Linked DNA regions of Homo sapiens. Changing the gene in region 3 together with the main gene of any one other region gives a genetic interaction. Each region holds a gene or a part of one and is shown on either strand. Other genes may lie near its edges.

The links.
Region 1: changes in EED (region 3) and SEC24B together harm fitness more than expected from each alone (negative genetic interaction), as found in Homo sapiens cells (one large-scale study listed by BioGRID).
Region 2: changes in EED (region 3) and MAN1A1 together harm fitness more than expected from each alone (negative genetic interaction), as found in Homo sapiens cells (one large-scale study listed by BioGRID).
Region 4: changes in EED (region 3) and HNRNPD together harm fitness less than expected from each alone (positive genetic interaction), as found in Homo sapiens cells (one large-scale study listed by BioGRID).

The regions. Positions count from the first base shown.
Region 1 is NC_000004.12:109,460,617-109,465,814, forward strand, and holds part of SEC24B (protein transport protein Sec24B), read left to right. Parts: intron 1-2,284; coding exon 2,285-3,028; intron 3,029-5,198. UniProt on the Homo sapiens protein: Component of the coat protein complex II (COPII) which promotes the formation of transport vesicles from the endoplasmic reticulum (ER).
Region 2 is NC_000006.12:119,198,762-119,203,959, reverse strand, and holds part of MAN1A1 (mannosyl-oligosaccharide 1,2-alpha-mannosidase IA), read left to right. Parts: intron 1-2,612; coding exon 2,613-2,706; intron 2,707-5,198. UniProt on the Homo sapiens protein: Involved in the maturation of Asn-linked oligosaccharides. Progressively trim alpha-1,2-linked mannose residues from Man(9)GlcNAc(2) to produce Man(5)GlcNAc(2).
Region 3 is NC_000011.10:86,260,377-86,265,574, forward strand, and holds part of EED (polycomb protein EED), read left to right. Parts: intron 1-3,795; coding exon 3,796-3,887; intron 3,888-5,198. UniProt on the Homo sapiens protein: Polycomb group (PcG) protein. Component of the PRC2/EED-EZH2 complex, which methylates 'Lys-9' and 'Lys-27' of histone H3, leading to transcriptional repression of the affected target gene.
Region 4 is NC_000004.12:82,362,992-82,368,189, forward strand, and holds part of HNRNPD (heterogeneous nuclear ribonucleoprotein D0), read right to left. Parts: intron 1-5,198. UniProt on the Homo sapiens protein: Binds with high affinity to RNA molecules that contain AU-rich elements (AREs) found within the 3'-UTR of many proto-oncogenes and cytokine mRNAs.

The DNA of each region.
Region 1 (5,198 bases), on a different chromosome or scaffold from region 3:
CCTAAGCATGTAACTGTGTTAAACATCTTGACTTTTGTGGCTCACTTATTGATAAATGGGTATAATAATACTATTTACTTTAGAGGATTAAAGAAGTTAATATATGTAAAGCATTTAGAACAGTGAATGGCATATAATGTAATATATTAATATATTAATATTAATAAGACTAATATTAGGATTAATGTTTTGTTGGTATTAATAAAATAAATATATGCTATACTTATCAAAGATATATAAAGATGAAAGTATAAAACACTAGAGTAAAACATGGTTTTATAGTTTTATAATCTTGAAATGAAGAAACCTCTACTAAGTATGATTTAAAAATCTGTCAAGCATAAAAAAAGAATTTTACTACATAATCAAGAAACTATAGCAAAAGATACCATGAACAAAGTGAAAACATAACAGTAACCTGGGGGAAATACTTACAGCACATAACATTAGGCTAATTTTCTACTGTGTGAGAACAGCTAGAAATCATTAAGGAAATCGCAATGCTACAGAAAAAGCAAACAGCAGAGAAAGACACCCAAATGAGAGTCTCAGCATCATTCAAAGTTAACTACTGTAAACTAAAGTGTTTCTCACTTTTCAGATTGGCAGAGATTAATATATAGTCAGTATTGGGACAATGAGGCAATATGAAGCATTATTGATGGGAGGTATAAATTGATAGACCTTTTAAGAGATATTTGCCAATAATGTCAATTTTAAAAACATAAACCTTTTGAACTTCCAGTTTGACTTCTAGAAATTTGTCTTATAGCTTCATCATAAAAGTTGACCTCATAAATATAGATTAGTTCAACCCCAAGATATTCATCAATGGAGATTTGGTGAATAATGTTATATCTCTACAATAAAGTACTATATGTAAATTTTTAAAAGAATAATGAGGATTTATATATGCTAATACTTAAGGATATTCAGCATATATTAAGTAAAAGCAAGTTGCGGAACTGTAATATCCTTTTTGTGTGTTTAAAAAATCAAGTAAATTATATACATGCTTACATATGCATTACATAGATACATGGATATACAGAGGATGCATAAGCATTAACTGTAACTATATCTGGGAAATAGGATATAAGCTACTAGGCAGAGATTTTTAATTCATACTCTTTATTGTTTGAATTTTTTCTACAGTGGGTATATTGTTACTTTTCTAGTTAGGAAAAATAAAAACTGAGAAAAAAGTTTTAGCTGTGTGCAGTGGCTCATGCCTATAATCCCAGCATTTTGGGAGGTTGAGGGAGGAGAGTCACTTGACTCTAGGAGTTTAAGACCAGCCTGGGCACACAGTGAGACCCTGTCTCTACAAGAAAATAAATTTAGAAACATTGGCTGGGCCGTGGTGTATGGGAGACCAGCCTGGGCAACACAGTGAGAGCCTGTCTCTGTAAAAAATAAATAAGTAAAAATTAGCTGGTCACCATGGTGCACGCCTGTGGTCCCAGCTGCTCGGGAGGCTGAGGTGAGAAGATTGCTTGAGCCCAGGAGAACAAGGCTGTAGTGAACCATGATCATGCCATCGCGCTCTATAGCCATCACACTCTATAGAGCCTGGGGTCAGAGCGAGACCCTGTCTCAAAGTTTAAACTTCTTCCAGGATGGGTATATTAGTTACTGATAGCTGCATAACAAAATACCCCCTAAGCTTAACAACTTGTAAAACAACAACTATTTATTTCACAGTTTCTCAGGAAGATAAACTTGGGAGCAGCCTAGCTAGGTGGTTCTGGCTCAGGGTCTCTCATGAGATAACCTGTTGGCTGGGCTATAGTTATCTCAAGATTCTACTGAGTTTGGAGGATCTGCCTGAAAGCTCAGTCGTGGTTGTTGGCAGATCTTAGTTTCTCTTTGGCTGTTGGCCAGAGAGTTAAGTTCCTCCTTGCATGGGCTTCTTCATAGGGCTGTTCACGGCTTGGCAGGTTAGCTTCTTTCAGACTGGGGTATCTGAGAGAAAGAGAGCCAGAGCTCAAGACTGGGCTAACATGGAAGTGACATATCATCACCTTTGCCGTATGCTACTGTTCATACAGACCAGTCCTGGTACATTGTGAGGGAGGACTACAAGGGTGTGAATAACAGGAGGTGGGGATCATTGGGGGCCATGTTGGAGGCAGGCTACCATAATGGGTCTATAACAGTGTATACCTTTTGTAATAAGTTGGGATTATGGAAAAGAAAGTTAATTGCTTCAATATTTAAATGGGGGCTATTTTTAAAAATTAGTTATCTCTTTACAAATACCTGTAAATACTTGCTTTTTCAGGTCCAGCCCAGAATCAAATGCAGGTTCCATCTGGATATGGATTGCATCATCAAAACTATATTGCTCCCTCAGGACATTACTCTCAAGGACCTGGGAAAATGACCTCATTGCCATTGGATACCCAGTGTGGTGATTACTACTCTGCTCTCTATACAGTACCAACACAAAATGTGACTCCTAACACAGTGAACCAGCAACCAGGAGCACAGCAGTTGTACAGCAGGGGTCCTCCTGCCCCTCATATTGTGGGATCCACTCTAGGATCTTTCCAAGGTGCTGCATCGTCAGCATCCCATTTGCATACGAGTGCCTCCCAACCATACTCCTCTTTTGTGAATCACTACAATAGTCCAGCCATGTACTCTGCCAGCTCTTCTGTTGCGTCTCAGGGATTTCCCTCTACTTGTGGTCATTATGCTATGTCAACTGTTTCTAATGCCGCGTATCCTAGTGTTTCATATCCCTCTCTGCCTGCTGGTGATACATATGGGCAAATGTTTACCTCACAGAATGCTCCGACTGTTAGGCCAGTTAAAGATAATTCATTCTCTGGTCAAAATACAGCTATCAGCCATCCATCGCCACTTCCACCTCTACCATCACAACAGCACCACCAGCAGCAAAGTCTTTCAGGATACAGTACTCTAACGTGGTCATCTCCAGGCCTTCCATCGACTCAAGACAATCTCATCCGAAACCACACAGGATCCCTGGCTGTAGCGAACAACAACCCAACCATTACTGGTAGGTTGAATGAAAAGTTCACCAAAACATGTTTGAAAATCAGTGCATTCCCAATTAAGTTATTATTTACATGAAGGTTAGAGGTGATATTGCCTAATAGAAAAACTGGAAGTTTGCTAATTTATTGTGGCTTTTTGTAGCACCTCTTTGAACCCTTTCTTCTCATCCATTCCCAATTAGCCACCCAACCATCTGCCTTGTCTAGCTTGGTTCCTTGCCATGATCAGTCAACATTTATTGATATATTTTATACATCTGCAATAGTTGTCTTTAATGTGAATTAGATACAGGGCAAAATGGAAGGGTCTGTTTTGAGGATATGTTGGCCACTATTTTCTCTTTTATACTAGTTCAACCTTGGGACAGTTGTTTTTTTAGCCAGAGCCCCACTTACTTAGAAAAAAGGATGGTTTGCAGCAGTGCACTGGTTTCCCCAAGTTAGCCCCTATTAGTGACTTTTGCAGAAGACATCTTTCCTGCACGTAAACAGTGTTTCTCATTTTCAGATTAGTAAGTTAGGCTGAAAGATGGGGAAGGGAAAGGAAGATGCATGAAGAATACCCTGGTATTCAGCCCTTCTGACCTTCCTAAACCAAGGTGTTGTTAAATTTTTTCATTTAAAAATTATGTATGTAAGACGTGGCTTGCCCTTTTTTTTTTTTTTTGACACAGGGTCTCACTTTATCACCCAGGCTGGGCATGATCTCAGCTCACGGCAGCCTTGACCTCCTGGGCTCAAGCGATCCTCCCATCTCAGCCCCACAAGTAGCTGGGACTACCAGGCATACGCCACCACACCCAGCTAATTTTGTAGAGATGGGGTTTTGCCATGTTGCCCAAGCTGGTCTCGAACACGCGAGCTACTGTGCCTGGCCCAATGTGGCTTTTTAAGTGCAGTGTTTCCTTTCCCTAGGATATATTCATTTTAATTCAATTTGTGACTTGAATTTAACAGAATCTGCTTTTGAACCGAATGAAAATGCATGTAAAAAATGGGAATTGGTAAAGCTGTGGTAACTTTTGGAATGATGCCTTTAGATTGTGTATCATTATCTGGATAGCCATGTGTCAAAGATGCTGTGGAAAGATATCCTTCTCTGGACAATGAGATTATTTAAAATTAGAACTTTAATATTAGACCCAAGCTGTACATTTGAGATCATCTACTCTTTCATTGCTATGTCGTTTAGAAATGCTTTCAGATACAAGCAGCTAATAGTAGTTTAAACAAAAAGGGGGTATTTTCCTCACATCACAAGTCTAGGTGGATGCAGTGGATCCCGCTGTTCTTGGTATCCTTTTTTCTCTTTCCACTCTGCCACCTGCAGCATGTAGGTTATAGAAACAAGATACTTCTGTACCTATAGACATTAAGTCAGAATTAAAAGCACCAAGAAGGGAGAGGAAAGGGGACTGGTTAGTGGCATTGACAGACTTCATTTTACAGATCATTTGCCATAGCTGTTTAAAAGACCATTCCTAGCTTCAGGGAAGGCTGGAAAATGAATATTGAATCTTTTTTTTAGCATCCATAGTAGAGGCGAACAAGAAAAAAGGGAGTTAGCACTGACTTGGGTGAGTCAACTCAAAGTGTCTGTCACAGTTCCGAAATCTGGCTGTCTACCAGAATCACTGGCACAGATTGTGATATTCAACTACAAATTACTGAGCTAGAATAGAATCTCCAGGGTACTCTTGAGAATCTATTTCTAACTGGATCTTCAGTGATGCTGTGAAACACATCTAAATTTTACTGTAGTCCTTTTGTTTTACAAATGAAGAAAGTTATCCAAGTTGAATTGCCTGTGGTCATTAATGGTAGAAACAGAGCTTGGCCTAGAGGTCAGTTTCTTCTGTCTCCCTCAGAACCAGGGCTTTCTGTCCTCTAGAAATTGTTTTCCTCTCTCTTCTTTCAACATTCTATTTACAGATCCACTTATCCTAAAGTCCTTCCAACTTAAGGATTTTGTGACTTTCATGACAAAGGAAATACAAGTAATTCCTATCTTAGTTCTGAGGTGGAAATAGCACCCTGGATGGAACTAATTTATATTGAGATGTGTCAGGGAAATATGGGGTCACTTGGCTAATGAACAGAACATGTAATTGGGAAAGGCCTGTCATTAAGAAAAGATTAAATAAAGGGGGAGAATAATTACAAAACTATTCT
Region 2 (5,198 bases), on a different chromosome or scaffold from region 3:
CTCTGCTTGTTGATATTCACTCCCTACATTGTTGCATCTAGTCTCTGGGCTTTACATACCATCTCTATACTCTAGACTCCAAGTTTATTATTTCAGTCCCAACCTGTCCCCTGAACTCCAGACTCTATATCTGTTTATTAAACATCTCCACTAAGAGGCCCGATAGACAAGTCCCACTTAAAATGCCTCGGACTTAACGCCTAGACGTGCTTCTCCAGTCTTTGCTATCTTGGTAAATGACATCTCACTGTACCCAGTGGTCTCCTCCTGGTTCTTCTTCTTGGTAAACCCCAGGCCCAGTCCACTAAGAAATCCTTTGGGTGTCTCACTGCCTCTACTGCTGTCCTGATCTGGGATCCATCAGGTCACCTGGTGTACTGTATGTACACCATACAGTAGCCACCTGACCACCCCTTCCTCACCCCCTCAGCCTTCTCATGACACTCAGAGTAAAATATGCCCTTATTGTGGCCTGTGGGGCCTGGGTGACCTGGGCCCTGGCTCTCCTCTCCTCTACCTGCTGACATTCTCCCCTTTGTCTCCTCACCTCTGGCCTCAGTAGCATTGCAAACCTGCTGTCTCCTCAGGGCCTTTGTACTTGCTCCTCTCTCTGTTCCGAGTGCTCTTCCTCCACATTTCCACGTGGCCTACTCCCTCACTTCTTTAATATTCTGCTCAAACACCTCCGCCTTGCCAGGCCACTCTGACTAACATGGGATAGCCTCTCCACATCACCCTGTCCCGTTAACTCTCAATCAGCTCGGGTTACCATAACAAAAATGCAGCCAGAAACAACCGAAATTTATTTCTTACAGTTCTGGAGGCTGGGAAATCCAAGATCAAACTGCCCATGAGGTAGGTTTTATTCTGAGCCTCTTCCCTGGGCTTGTAGATGACGAGAACTGTCCCAGTGTGTGTTCACATGATGTCTTCTTTGTGCTCTGAGGGAGAGAAGGAGTCACAGAGAGAGAGAGAGAGCTCTTGTGTCTCTCATGAGGGCACTAATCCCATTTAAGGCTCTACCGTCATAACCTAATTACCATCTCCAAATAAATCTCCAAATACAATCACACTGGGAAGTAGGGTTTCAGCATATGAAATTAGGGGTATGCAGTTCAATCCATAGCACCCTTTTATTTTTTTCCACAGTATTTATCATCTCCTGACATACTATACAGTTAGGTGTTACTTAACAGTGTTTATTCAACAGTGGACCACATATGTGACAGTGGTCCTGTAAGTTTATAATGGAGTTGACAAAATTCCTACGGCCTTGTGACATCATAGTTGTCATAATGTCGTAGTGCAATGCGTTACTTACATGTTTGTGGTGGTGATGGCATAAACATACTCTACTCCCAGTCACATAAAAGTATAGCACATATAATTATGTACAGTACATAATATTTGATAATTAAATGACTGCATTACTGATTTATGTACTACTATGGTTTTTATTGTTATTTTAGAATGTACCACTTTTTTTTTAAGTTAGCTCTAGAAGCAAGGTCCTTCAAGAGGTATTCCTCTTCAAGGCATTATCATCACAGGAGTTGACAGCTCCATGCGTGCTACTGCCCCTGAAAGACCTTCCAGTGCGATAAGATGTAGAAGTGGAAGACAGTGATATTGATGGTCCTGTGGAGTCCTAAGCTAATGTGTATATGTGTCTTAGTTTTTAACAAAAAGTTTAAAAAGTTAAACAACTTTAAAAAGAAATTTTAAATAGAAAAAACTTATAAGAATATAAAGAAAGAAAATATTTTGGTACAACTATACAAAGTGTGTTTTAAGCTAATGGTTATTACAAAAGAGTCAAAATTTTTTTAATTAAAAAGTTTATAAAGTAAAATTACAGTAAACTAACGTTAATTTATTATTGAAAGAAAAATACTTTTATAAATGTATTAATAATGGCTAAGTGTACCATGTTTATAAAGTTTACAGTACTATACAGTAACGTCCCAGGCCTTCACATTCACTTATTACTCACTTACTAACTCATCCACTGCAACTTCCAGTCCTGCGAGTTTCATTCATGATAAATGCCCTATACAAAGTGCCCTGTATTTATGTATAGGGTTATAAAATGTATAACCCTATAGAAAGGTATCATTTTTCATCTTTTATAGTGTATTTTTCTGTGTTTAGATACACAAATACTTCAGTACAGTAACATATGCTACACAGGTTTGTAACCTAGAAACAGTAGGCTGTGCCAACTACATTTGTGACAGTGTGCTCTATGATGTTTGTACAAGAATTAAATTGCCTGTGTTTCCCAGCATGTATCCCTGTCATTAAGGGACACATGACTAGACTTATTGATTTATTGTCTGTCCCGTCCCACTAGGATGCACAATTCTAAGAGTGTGGTGACTTTGTTTATCCACTGGCCCCTTGTTCCTAGTATGGCATCTGGCTAATGGTAGATAACTAATCAGTGTGACTATATTCACTTACTGCCATTATGTTTGTAATAATAAGCTAACAGCAGTTATCTTTGTTCTAACTCTGCATCATTTAAGTCAACTTGTATGTTCAAGAAGAAGAAGAATGGCATGAAAATTGTTTTTTAGATTTTCACGGTAACATTTTATTTTCTATTATAGGTAATGAATATTCGAACAGTACTGAACAAACTGGAAAAACCACAAGGCCTTTATCCTAACTATCTGAATCCCAGTAGTGGACAGTGGGGTCAACGTAAGTCAGAAGATTTGCATTATTATAGCTCTTTTTGGTACTGTACTCGTGGAGAGAGAGGAAGCACAAAAGCAGCACAGATTTTGTTGAGAAATGTTTAGAAAAGGAGAAAAGGGCATGGCTCCTTTAATAAACAGGCTTCTGTCATCAGATTGTGTTATTAGGACACTGGATTGTGTATTTTTCATATATAACTCCAAGTGTGATGACATATAAGCACATTTACAGCTATTAATCAGAAAGGGAAGATCTGGCCAGAGTAGTGTGGGGATGTTAATCTGTAACAAGCTGGTCATGTGGATAGAAAGGAAATTCATTCCTTTGTACTAATGACTATGAGGGTTTTATAGAGAGTAGGTAGACCATTCTGCTTCCTAACATTCTGTTTCTGCATGGCTATATAATGAGAGAGGAGCCTGAATTTTTAAGAGTTGGGAAATTGGAAGAGCAAACAGCCTGTTTTTCTCTTCTTAATTTTAAGCTGCCAGATATAAAGGTTTCTTGCCAGTAGAATTACCTTTAGGATGGGAGAAAGTATTGCACAAGAACTTTTGATCCTAGAAGCCTGCACTTAAGACTCTTCAGACGATTTTGAGCAGGGGCATAAAGATTCAGAGTAGTTGAAAGAAATGTTCTCAAGCTGATTTGGAAAAACAGTAGTAGATTAAATAGCTGAAAACAAGTGAAGAATATTGAGATACCCAACTGTAGCAAGAGTACACTGCCTTAAGATTTTACTCTAATTTGGGTTTTTTCTTTATATTTTAATATCATGTTCTTAGATACCTCATTATTACTTTAGAAGTACTTTTCTTAAAGAATAGTTTAATAGGAAAGTATATGCCAAAATCCATATGCTAAAATATGTCTGTAGCTCTGGAAGGCCTAGCTGTTGAAACCTTAGGACTATAATCAAGGTTACCACTTACCTAAGTGTGGTCAACAGATCACTGGAAGTCCTTGAGACCTCTGAGGAGGCCCACAAGGTCAAAAATATTTTTATTATAATACTAGTATAATGATATATAATAACAAGACATATAATACATGTCTTAGTCATATTTACTAAGCCAGTACACAGTATCTTGCACTTAGTGGATGTTTACTTACTTAAATTTTGTGAATACATATGTGCTCTGTATCTCATCTCTCTTTCTGCCTCTGCTTTTAATAGTGGTACTTTGAAAGACTTTCTGCCTTTTCTAATGTGTTGATATTTACACCTACAGTGTTAGGTGATACTGCTGAAGCCTCACTGAGAACAAAGGCGAACAAACACCAAATAGTACTAATATTCATATTTTTTCTTTTTTTTTTCTTTTTTGTGGGACAGGGTCCCACTGTGTCACCCAGGCTGGAGTACAGTGTCATAATCTCAGCTCATTGCAACCTCTGCCTCCTGGGCTCAAGCTGGGCTCAAGCTATCTTCCCACCTCGGCCCCCCGCCCCGAGTAGCTGGGACTACAGGTGCACGATGCCATGCTCAGCCAATTTTTAATTTTTTTTTTTTTTGGTAGAGAGAAGGTCTCATATTTCCCAGGCTGGCCTCAAACTTTTAGGCTTGAGCGATCCCTTTGCCTTGGCCTCCCAAAGTGTTGGGATTACAGGCATGAGCCACCACACCAGCCCCCATTGTATTCTTAATAGCATTTTAAAAAAGGATACTGGTTTCACTTATGAATGTGCTTACTGAAACAGTAAAAAAAAAAAATTAGTGATTCTAATAAATACCAACCTGTGAGTACACACCTTTGTCATGTTCTGTGAGGTGAAATGGAAAATACTCATAAATCACTCCTGCTGAATTATGAAAAATGATAGTTGCATCAAGGAAAAGCTCTTGGGTGTTTTGAGTTGCAAGCTGAGCTAGCCACTTACTGTTTCACAGATTCAACATTTTTACTTGAAAGAACAATTTAAAAAATGATTATTTAGGCTAGGTAGTCAGGAGCCATGTTCTTGAAAATGAGCTTGTCACTTCAAGAAAAAGTCACAGTATTTGTGCCAATGATTATAATCCAAGTTTCTAAATAAAAAATAGAATTTTGGAAAACTTGTACATGCTACCATGAGCTTGACACAAATACTTTTCCTGTTAGATTGATGATGATATTAACAAATGTGGTTTTCTGATATTGTATAATGGAATGGGTCAATATTTGAAAGATCTGCATAGTTCAGTGAGCCAGGATTTTCCAAATGACCAAAGCATGATATTATAAGATCATATATGGAAAACAATCTGTGTAAAGTACAAGATAGACCAGTGGCTTTTAATGTAACAATACGAAAATTCATTGATGTAATTTCTAATTTTACAATGCAATTAACCTTTAAAAAAGAAACCACTTGTTGACTATTGTTGTAATATCAAAGAAAAATATCCACAATTGTGTGAAAAGCCTGTTAAAATATCCTTTCTTTTTCTGACTGTATTACTGTGTGAGGCTGACTTGTCTTGATGTATTACAGCCAAAACAACATATAGCAAA
Region 3 (5,198 bases):
CCACCATGCCTGGCTAATTTTTAAAAATTTTTTGTAGAGATACGGTTTCATTATGTTGTCCAACCTGGTCTCAAACTCCTGGCCTCAAAAGATCCTCACACCTTGGCCTCCCAAAGTGCTGGGATTACAGGTGTGAGCTACTGCTGTACATTCTTTATTAATGTTTAATATAACATTGCTCAAATTATAGCTGCATAATTTTTGAAGAGGGACTGTCATTCTATAAAATTGTGCATGATATATGTAGTTATGTTTTCAGCTTACTGTAAAAATCATAAATCTCAGTCCCCTTTCAATTTTTTAATGTGAGTATGGTGAAGGGAAAAGCTAGTATCTTGTTCTGTGGGATAAAATTGCTTATGTCAAATCTGTATTTTATTTCAAAAGTATATTTCCATCAAATTAGGTTATTTAAAGAAAGTTATTTGAGATAAATATGCTTAAAATATTTTTCAGACCACATGAATATTTCTGAACTTACTGTCTTAGTCCACTTTAACCTGGCATTAGAAAGTAAGAACAAGAAATTGAACTTGAAGCCTTTTTTTTTTTTAATATATAATTGGAATTAATTCATTCATAAGAGTGGTACTCTCATGACCTAACGCTTCTCATTAGGTCTCATCTCCCAACACTGCTGCATTGGGATTAAGTTTCCCAACCTGCTTTTTCGGGGGTTCATTTAAGCTGTAGCATTCTGCCTCTAGCCCCCAAAATTCAAATCCTCAATCAGATATGGGTGAGACTCAAGGCAGGATTCCTGCTGAGGTAAATTCTCCATCTGTGGGTCTGGGAAATCAGGCATCTTATCTATTTTCAAAATACAGTGGTAGGATAAGCATAGGATAGACAGTCCCTTCCAAAAAGGAGAGATAGGCAAGAATAAGGGTAACTGGTCCCAAGTAAATCCAAAACTCAACAGAACAAACAAGATTAAATCCAAGGCACCAGAATAATCTTCCTTGGCTCCATGTTTTGCCTTCTGGGCATGCTGGGTGTGGAGTTTGGGCCCCAGAGGCCTTGGGCAGCCCCATCTTTATGGGTTTGCCACGTGCAGCCCACATAGCATCTTATGAGTTGGAGTCGGGTGCCTGCAGCTCTTGCAGGCTGGTGGTGTGCCCTGGTAGCTCAGCAGTTCTGGGATTTGGGGGATGGCTTTTTCCCCATGGCTCCACCAGGTGTTGCTGTAGTAGGAACTGCTGTGTGGCTCTGCCCTTCTGAAAAGTTTCTGCCTGGAGCCCCAGGCTCTTTGTGATGTCTTTTGAAATCTAGAGAGGAAGCCGTGCCTCCACAGTTCCTGCATTCTCTGCATCTGCAGACTTAACACCACATGGACACTGCCAAGATTTGCTGCTTGTACCTTCAGAAGCTATGGCCTGAGCCATACTTGAGCCCCTTCAAGCTATGGGGTGACCAAAGAGCACTGCCTTGGAATAGGGGGAGCAAAGTGCTGAAGTGGCCCTGGACAGTGAATGTAGAGGTCCCATGGGTGCTACTCTGGAAACCTTGCCCTCAAGGTCTTAGCTATGTCTTGAAGATCTCTGAAATGCCTTTGTGGTCATTATCCCATTGTCTTGGTGAATAGAACCTGCCTTCTCTTCCCTATTAATCTCCTTAGCAATTAGTCACTTAGCTACATCCTTAATATTCTCTCTCAAACATGCTTTTTTATTTTATATATTTTTTGAAGAGACAAGGACTTGCTATGTTGCCCAGGCTGGTCTTGAACTTCTGGGCTCAAATGATCCTTCCACCTCAGCCTTCGAAAGTGTTGGGATTACAGGTGTGAGCCACCACACCCAGCCTGCTTTTTTTTTCTTTACATGGCCAGGCTGAGAGTTTATAAATGTTTCTGTTTTGCTTTCCTTTTTAATTACAAATTTCACCTTTAGATCATTTCTCATTTTATGATAAGCAGCCAGAAGAAGCCATGCATCACTGTGAATGCTTTGATGCTCAGATATTTCTTCTGCCAGGTATTGGATTCATTGCTCTTAACTTCTGCCTTCCACAAAGTCCTAGGGCATGGACACAGTCCTGCTAAGTTCTTCACAACTGTATTGCAAGGATGGCTTTTATTTATTTATTTAATTTATTTTTTTGAGGCAAGGTCTCATTCTTGTCACCCAGGCTGGAGTGCAGTGGCACAACCTCTGCTCCCTCACACCCTCTCCTTCCCTTTTGCTGTGAGACGATTCAGCATGAAGGCCCTCACCGGATGCCGGCACCATGCCAGTGATCCTTCCACTTCAGCCTCCCGAGTAGCTGGGACTACAGGCACATGCCACCACACCCCGCTAGTTTTTGTATTTTTTGTAGAGATGGAGTTTCACCATGTTGCCCAGGCTAGTCTCGAATTCCTGAGCTCAAGTGTCCACCCACCTCAGCCTCCCATGCTGCTGGAATTACAGGCATGAGCTACCACACCTGGCCTGGCTTTTTTTTTTTTTCTTTTAAAGACAGGGTTGGTCTCTGTCACCCAGGCAGTGCAGTGGCATGATCATAGCTCACTGCAGCCCAAAACTCCTAGGCTCAATTGATCCTCTTGCCTCAGTCCCCTAAGTAGCTAGAACTGCAGGTACACGCCACCACACCTGGCTAATTTATTTTCTGTAGGGATTGGGTCTCACTATGTTACCCCGGCTGGTCTTGAATTCCTGGCCTCAAGTGATCCTCCTGCCTCAATCTCAAAGTGCTGGGATTACAGGCATGAACCATCACACCCTGCCAACAGGGATAGCTCTTACTCCATTTTCCAATAACTTCTCATTTCTGTCTGAGACCTCACTGAATGAGACCAACCTCATTCTGTCTGAGACCAACATTGTTCTACCAACATTCTGATCACAACCACTTAAGTAATCCTTAAGAAGATAAAGGCTCTGCCTGAAGCTCTTGTCTTCTTTTCAGCCCTCACTGGAATTACCCTCAATGCTCCACTCACACCAATATAGGCTTTTTCTAGCCTGCTCCTCCAGATTCTTCCAGCCTCTCCTCGTTACCCAGTTCCAAAGTCATTTCCACATTTTCAGGTATTTATAGCAATAGTCCCGTTTCTGAGTACCAACATTCTGTCTGAGTCCATTTTGTGCTGCTATAACACAATACCACAGACTAGGTGACTGACTGATGGATTAATTAATTTCTTTTCTATTGCTCAGGCTTCACTAATTTTTAAATTTTTTGTTGAGACAGGGTCTTGCTATATTGCTAGGGCTAGTCTCAAACTCCTGGGCTTAAGCAGTCCTCCCATCTTGGCCTTCTGAAGTGCTGGGGTTACAAGCATGAGCCACCGTACCTGACTGGGTGATTTATAATGAACAAAAATTTATTTGGCTCCTGTTTCTGGAGACTGGGAAGTCCAAGAACATGGTGCCGGCATCTGGTGAGAGCCTTCATGCTGAATCGTCTCAGCAAAAGGGCAGGAGAGGGTGTGAGGGAGCAAGAGATTGAATTTATAGCCTCAGGCCCTTTTATAATCAGTATTAATCCATTTGTGAGGATGGAGCCCCCATGACCTAAATACCTCCCATTAGGCCCCAGCTCACACCACTATTGCATTGGGGATTGAGTTTCTAGCACATGCTTTTGGGGGGGCCTATTCAAACTATAGCACTTACCTAGCTAATTCTACATCTGATGTAAACATTTTAAGTTGCTATGTAATATGGATTCCATTTTTAGGCTTTACTGTGCATAACTTACATCTAGACTTTAGTAGTTTTTCTTTCACAAGATGTTGAAAGTTCACAGTAAATAAAAAACATTCGCCTAATTTTTGTATGTTTATACTAGATCATGCTTTACGATTATGGAATATCCAGACGGACACTCTGGTGGCAATATTTGGAGGCGTAGAAGGGCACAGAGATGAAGTTCTAAGTGCTGTAAGTTGGAAACTGCAGGGCAATGACTTTCAGGTTTACATAGCTGTGAACAGTCTCCATGGAACTGTTTCCTTATAAGAAAGTGTGTTTCATGTAGCCTGTCAGGCAGACATTCACTTACATTTGACATAGAAGATTTTAATCTCCAGATGAAGGAATAAAACAAGTAAAGACTATATTTATTTATTTATTTTTTAAATTACTTGCACTGTATACCAATCCCTGGAGTCTTATGAGAGCAGTATGATCTTGCTCCTTTCCTTTTAATCTAAAATCACTAAGTTAATGTTTGTTTTGCCATTTCGCAGTTATTAAAGAAAAAAATTAAACTATGTAGCCATTAAAGTGCTTTTCCATCTTTTGTTTGAAGTTGAAACATAACGTTTTTTGCTATTTGGAAGTGTTTTATTGTGCTCACACTGTTTTAGGTAACTTATTTCTAGCCATTCTCTTTGGGTGGCGTGGTATAATACAAGACCAGTTTAAAGATAAATACCACCTTTATATTGATGTATTGTAATCCATTGGTCCATTATACAAGTGTTTTTAGTTAGGTTTCAGATTTTAACATTATTTTTGCTTATGTTCCATATTTAGCTCATTTGATTCCTGTAGTAATTTCACATCTCTTAGGTTGTTTTCCATTAAACTATGTAAAGGGGCACCATATTTTACAGCATGTAACATTTTAGTTGAAGGTACTAAAATATTCCTATGTTGAAGTTTGGATTCCTTTGTGAGAATCATACCTTCCTTCGAATACCTTGTCAACTTGGATTTCCTAAAAGTTGCAGTAGCATTCTACGTCTGGCTTTATGTGTGTAAAAGCCAAGTGAACTGTTCTTTATTAATAACTCCAAATTAGTGGTATTGTCTCGAAGGATGTCTTGTTGCTGTTGACAGTGAGGTAATTAGAAGTACCACAACTGTGAATTCAATAAACATCAAGCCTAAAGTTCTTAGGCTCTTATAAAATGGTGCTCATAATTAATGCAAAGGCTGGATTAACATATAGTATCTAGGTTAGTAAGGAAAATATACTCCTTCAATAGAACTCTCTACTGTTATTTCTTAGAATGAGAGCAGGAGACAGTATGTAGCTCTTCTGTGTAATACAGGAGTTCACTGGAGGTGGATAGGTGTGTGAGATTTTCATTACTCATTATGTGCCTTTTGCTAAATTAAATAGCATCTCTGGGCCTTAGTGTCTGCCTATGAAATGAGGTTGTTACAATAGATGATCTGTTACATGCCTGTTAAAAATTAGTAAACAGCAAATGAAAAAAGTTAAAATCTGTTTTTTATTAGACT
Region 4 (5,198 bases), on a different chromosome or scaffold from region 3:
GCTCTCCCTCAAACTGATGGCATAATGATTTTATATATATATGTGTGTGTGTGTGTGTATATATATATATATATACATTTACAAATACTTATTTTTTTCTTTTTAAACAGAGTCTCACTCTGTCGCCCGGGCTGGAGTGCAATGGCATGATCTAGGCTCACTGCAACCTCCACCTCCCGGGTTCAAGCAATTCTCCTGCCTCAGCCTCCTGAGTAGCTGGGATAACAGGTGCATGCCACCATGCCAGGCTAATTTTTTTTTGCACTTTTAGTAGAGATGGGGTTTCACCATATTGGTCAGGCTGGTCTCGAACTCCTGACCTCGTGATCCACCTGCCTCGGCCTCCCAAATTAGAGGCGCGAGCCACCATGCCCGGCTAAATTATCTACATATTTTCTATGACTGTATCTTGCTTTTAAAGCACATGTACTGTCTGTCCAGATTACCTCTGCTGCCTTGAATACAAAGCATTTCATATTGCTGTCACTCCTGCGTAGTGCAAACACTTTCCAATGAAGTAGACAGAACTTCAGAAAATACCCTAAGGAGCCATGTTAAAAACGACCAAGACTTGTTCAACTAGCAACAAAGATGGCCCCTAACGCTGCAATAAGTTTAAACTTTGATCCTTAGTTCTAAGTGAATCAATCCCAATTAAAATGCAGGACTTCATCTACTGTATTTTATTAACATAGTTGAGTATCTTAATCCTAGCTGTGAACTAAATATTCAGCACCCCAAGGCTGAATATGGTATTCAGTTTAAAACACCTACTCCACAACAGAAGTCTCCTTGCTTTCACATTGGCTTCCACCAAATTGTAAAATTAAATGACAAGCATAAAGTTATACAACTCAGCATAGATAACTATCCAAGTGATATGCAGTATCATTCAGGAATTTAGGCTCCTTTGTGGGACATTTTATCATCTTTTAAAGCAAGTTAAGTTTAGAGGCAATAAAGACAAAATGCCGGGGTTTAAACCCTACTGCTGCCTTTTTTTAAGACAGGGTCTCACTCTGTCTCCCAGGCTGGAGTGCACTGGCTCCATGACAGCTCATTGCAGCCTTGACCTCCTGGGCTCAGTTGGTCCTCCCACCTCAGCCTCACCAGTAGCTCGGACTACAGGCACCCACCAACACACCCGGCTAATATTTTTGCAGAGATCAGGTTTTACTATGTCGCCCAGGCTAGTCTTCCAACTCCTGGGCTCAAGCTGCCCACCTCAGCCTCCCAAAGTGCTGGAATTCCAAACATGAACCACTCCACCTGGCCCCCTGCCTCTTACTAATTGTGTAACATTAAGAAAAAATATTAAAGTCCAAGATTGTTTTCCCATCTGTAAAAAGAGCATACCTCAGATATTTGCAGAGGGTTAAAACTAGTTAACACACTTAAAGGACACAGAATAGTCTGACACACATCCTAAATGATTGATAGAAGTTACTATTTTGAAGGGGTAAAGCACTATAAGCACTATCTAAACATAATTTAATAAAGCAAACTTTTTATTTACTCAATGGCTTAATTTTTTAAAACTGCATAGGCTTTATAAACTTTCCAACATTAAAAGGAAAAGGCCACAATGAGTTTTATATAAACATATTCTAATATTTTCAATGCTGCCAACTTGAAATAACCCAGAAATTTTTAAATAGTCCATGTAAAAAAATATATAAACTAAAAATTAGGTGGTATTTCAACTAAGACCCTTTAAATGTAGCTTCCAAAATCACCTTGATGACTTGGTCTACCCTACATTTATGCCAGTAATTTTAGTAAAGAATAATTTAAAACATAAAAGGAAATATACATGGAGCAATCCTGGCTGGTGGAAAATGTTCCGATTTAATAATCCTGGCTTTTCCCCATCAATAAACTTATTCTCTGGACTATTTAGGTCACTAGGTTTTTAACATTCCCAGTCAATATTAACTATTTTATTCCAAGATACCTCCCCTAATAAGTCTTTATTGTCAAACACCTTATTCAAGGTAAAAAGTTAGCCATTATACTCACTCCCAATTTTGGAATAGTATTCTTTTTCTATGTTCTATAACTTCGTATTATTTTTACTTTTTTAGAGACGAGATCTTGCTCTGTTACCCAGGCTAGTCACAGAACTCCTGGACATAGCGATCAGCCTCCCAAAGTGCTAGGATTACAGGCATGAGCCACCACACCCAGCCAATCCTTTAACTTTTAAACACTTCCTAACAACTTATGATCTTACATACATGGCTTTATAACAAGTTCTGACAGTTTAAAAAATACAACAGAATGTCAACCTGATATACATTTCAGGTATAAAACATAAATGACCAATCACTGTCATCTTTTAAAGTAATGTTACTCAAGCACACCATTAAATCCTTACTGAATTTTTCCAGTATTTTATCCATCATAATTATTCTTCTAAAATCCTAAAATGACAAACTAAAGCTAAGTCACTAGTTACCTAAGGGGAAGGGAGGAGGTTACAATGCAACTAGATAATATCACACGTTAGGGTATTTTACAAGTTGTATGAAAACTACCTTGGGAGAGAGCTTGACAAGCTTTCATCGAGTTCAAATACTAACCAGCCTTTTTAGATCTGATCTGGTATAAAATTCATGAAAACCACTTTTTTGAGACAGAGTCTCGCTCTATTGCCAGGCTGTGGTGCAATGGTGTGATCCTGGCTCACTTCAACCTCTGCCTCCCAAGTTCAAGCAATCTTCCCATCTCAAGCTCCTGGGTAGCTGAGACTATGGGTGCACACCACGAGGCCCAGCTAATTTTTTTTTTTTTTTTTTTTTTTTGTAGAGACAGGATCTCATCATGTTGCCCAGGCTGGTCTGGAACTCCTGGGTTCAATCTGCCCACCTCAGCCTCCCAAAGTGCTATATTACAAGCGTGAGCCACCGCACCCAGCCCACTTTTTTTAACTATTTAAAACTAATGAGACATTAAGGTTAGCCAATAACAAATCTTCCCCAAAAAACACTTTAGTCAATAAAAATATAAATTTTGGTATTATTTCCCCATCATTAAAGAATAGGTATTCCTCTCCCCCAGCTTTCTACAGATGACATTTTCAAGGTAAGTGTGAAAAAGAATTCCATTTATTCAAGACTAATATACAATGGACCAAACATTTTCAGAGACTTCTCTGTATTAAATCTCATTACTTCACACTTTAGAATGAACCTAACTAAATGACTACTAAAAAGCGAAGTTGAAAAAATAAACATCTAATAAATGAAACATGACAGTTTTTTTGGGAGGGGGACAGAGTCTCGCTTTGTCGCCCAGGCTGGAGTGCGGTGGCGCGATCTTGGCTCACTGCAACCTCTGCTTCCCGGGTTCAAGCTCTTCTCCTGCCTCAGCCTCCCAAGTAGATGGGACTACAGATGCCCACCATCATGCCCGGCTAATTTCTGTATTTTTAGTAGAGACAGGGTTTCAACATGTTGGCCAGGTTGGTCTCGAACTCCTGACCTCAGGTGATTCGCTTGCGTCAGCCTCCCAAAGTGCTGGGATGACAGGCATAAGCCACCGCGCCCGGCCAACATGACAGTTTTTTAAATAAACTTTTTTTTTCTTTTTTTGAGACGGAGTCTTGCTCTGTTGCCCAAGCTGGAATGCAGTGGTGCAACCTTGTCTCACTGCAACCTCCGCCTCCAGGGTTCAAGTGATTCTCCCGCCTCAGCCTCCTGAGTGACTACAGGCGCATGTAACCACACCTGGCTAATTTTTGTATTTTTAGTAGAGCTGGGGTTTCGCCATGTTGGCCAGGCTGGTCTCCAATTCCTGACCTTAGGTGATCCACCCATCTTGGCCTCCCAAAGTGCTGAGATTACAGGTGTGAGCCACTACGCCTGGCCTAAAAATAAAACACTTTAAGAGACCAGGTCTCACTATCAAAATGCAGTGGCTCCATCATAGCTTCCTGCAGCCCTGAGCTCCTTCCTGGGCTCAACACATTCTCCTGCCTCTGCCTCCTGAGTAGATGTAACTACAACTACAAACACACCCCCCAACACACTAGCCTTTTTTTTTTTTTTTTTTTTAAAGAAACAGGGGTCATATTATGTTGCCTAGCTGGTCTAGAAATCCTGGCATGAAATGATCCTCATACCTCAAGACTTCTGAGTAGCCAGTGATTACAGGCACGAGCCACTACTTTAATTAACTTTAAATGCTTAATCCAATACCTCCTTTTCACTTCACTACAAGGAAGCAATGACATCTTGTATGTTTACGTTTTAAATAAGCTCTCAATCAGCTTTGTAAGGTAAACTCCCATTTACCTAGAGGTTAAGGAATAGGTATTTTCCTTAACCTGAAGGTTAAGGTTCTGGTTAACTGAGATTACTACATATTCACAATTCTATAAAACTGTGTACTGGAAATCAATTTAGGTATCAATGCTGAAGTCAGAAAATGATTTGTACCTTGATGAATTTTCCAACGTTTTAAAATCATGTTACTTTTCAAAAGTGTAAGGAAAAATCTGTAGGAGATTCATTCCATGACATTGTCTGTTGGTTGCTTTTTGAGTATATTTTCTCATGGCTTCATCTATCTTGCTCATAAGACTAAATGGGGAGACAGACTTCCTGGCTGTGTGGGCTCTGTGGTAGTCTGAAGTCTAGATAAGCAGGAGTTTACAGTGCAAGACCCAATACTTAAACTGTCACCTTGATTACTGGCCAAGCACCACCAGTAAATTGGAGTCTTCCCTCCCCACCCCCAAATATTCTTAAATACCTAGCTCCAACGTACAATATAATACTCCAGAAACTAAAACATGCTTACCTTTACTCCACAGGAGTAAATCACTGGCAGTATCAACTATTAGGGCACTGGATAAATACACACAAGCTATGAAAGCAGGCTATGTAGTCAATCCTCCTGTGGTGAGCATTGTTTCCAACACATAGATCAGCAAACCAAGTAACAAACATGTCGTATTACCTGAAACCACACTGTTGGAAGTGAAGCAACAGAAAGAGATCCCACGCTTTCAGCATCCAGTTCAGTGCCCTATCTACTAAAACGTTGAAGCAGAACTGAAGTCAAATCAAGCTTGGACTAACATAAGTTATGTTTCACCCATTTGTAAATGTGCACACACTTGAGGTACACAGCTTCCAAGTGGAATGGGAAAAAAAATTACTCTATTCCTTTTTAAATGCTTTCAAGCATGGTAT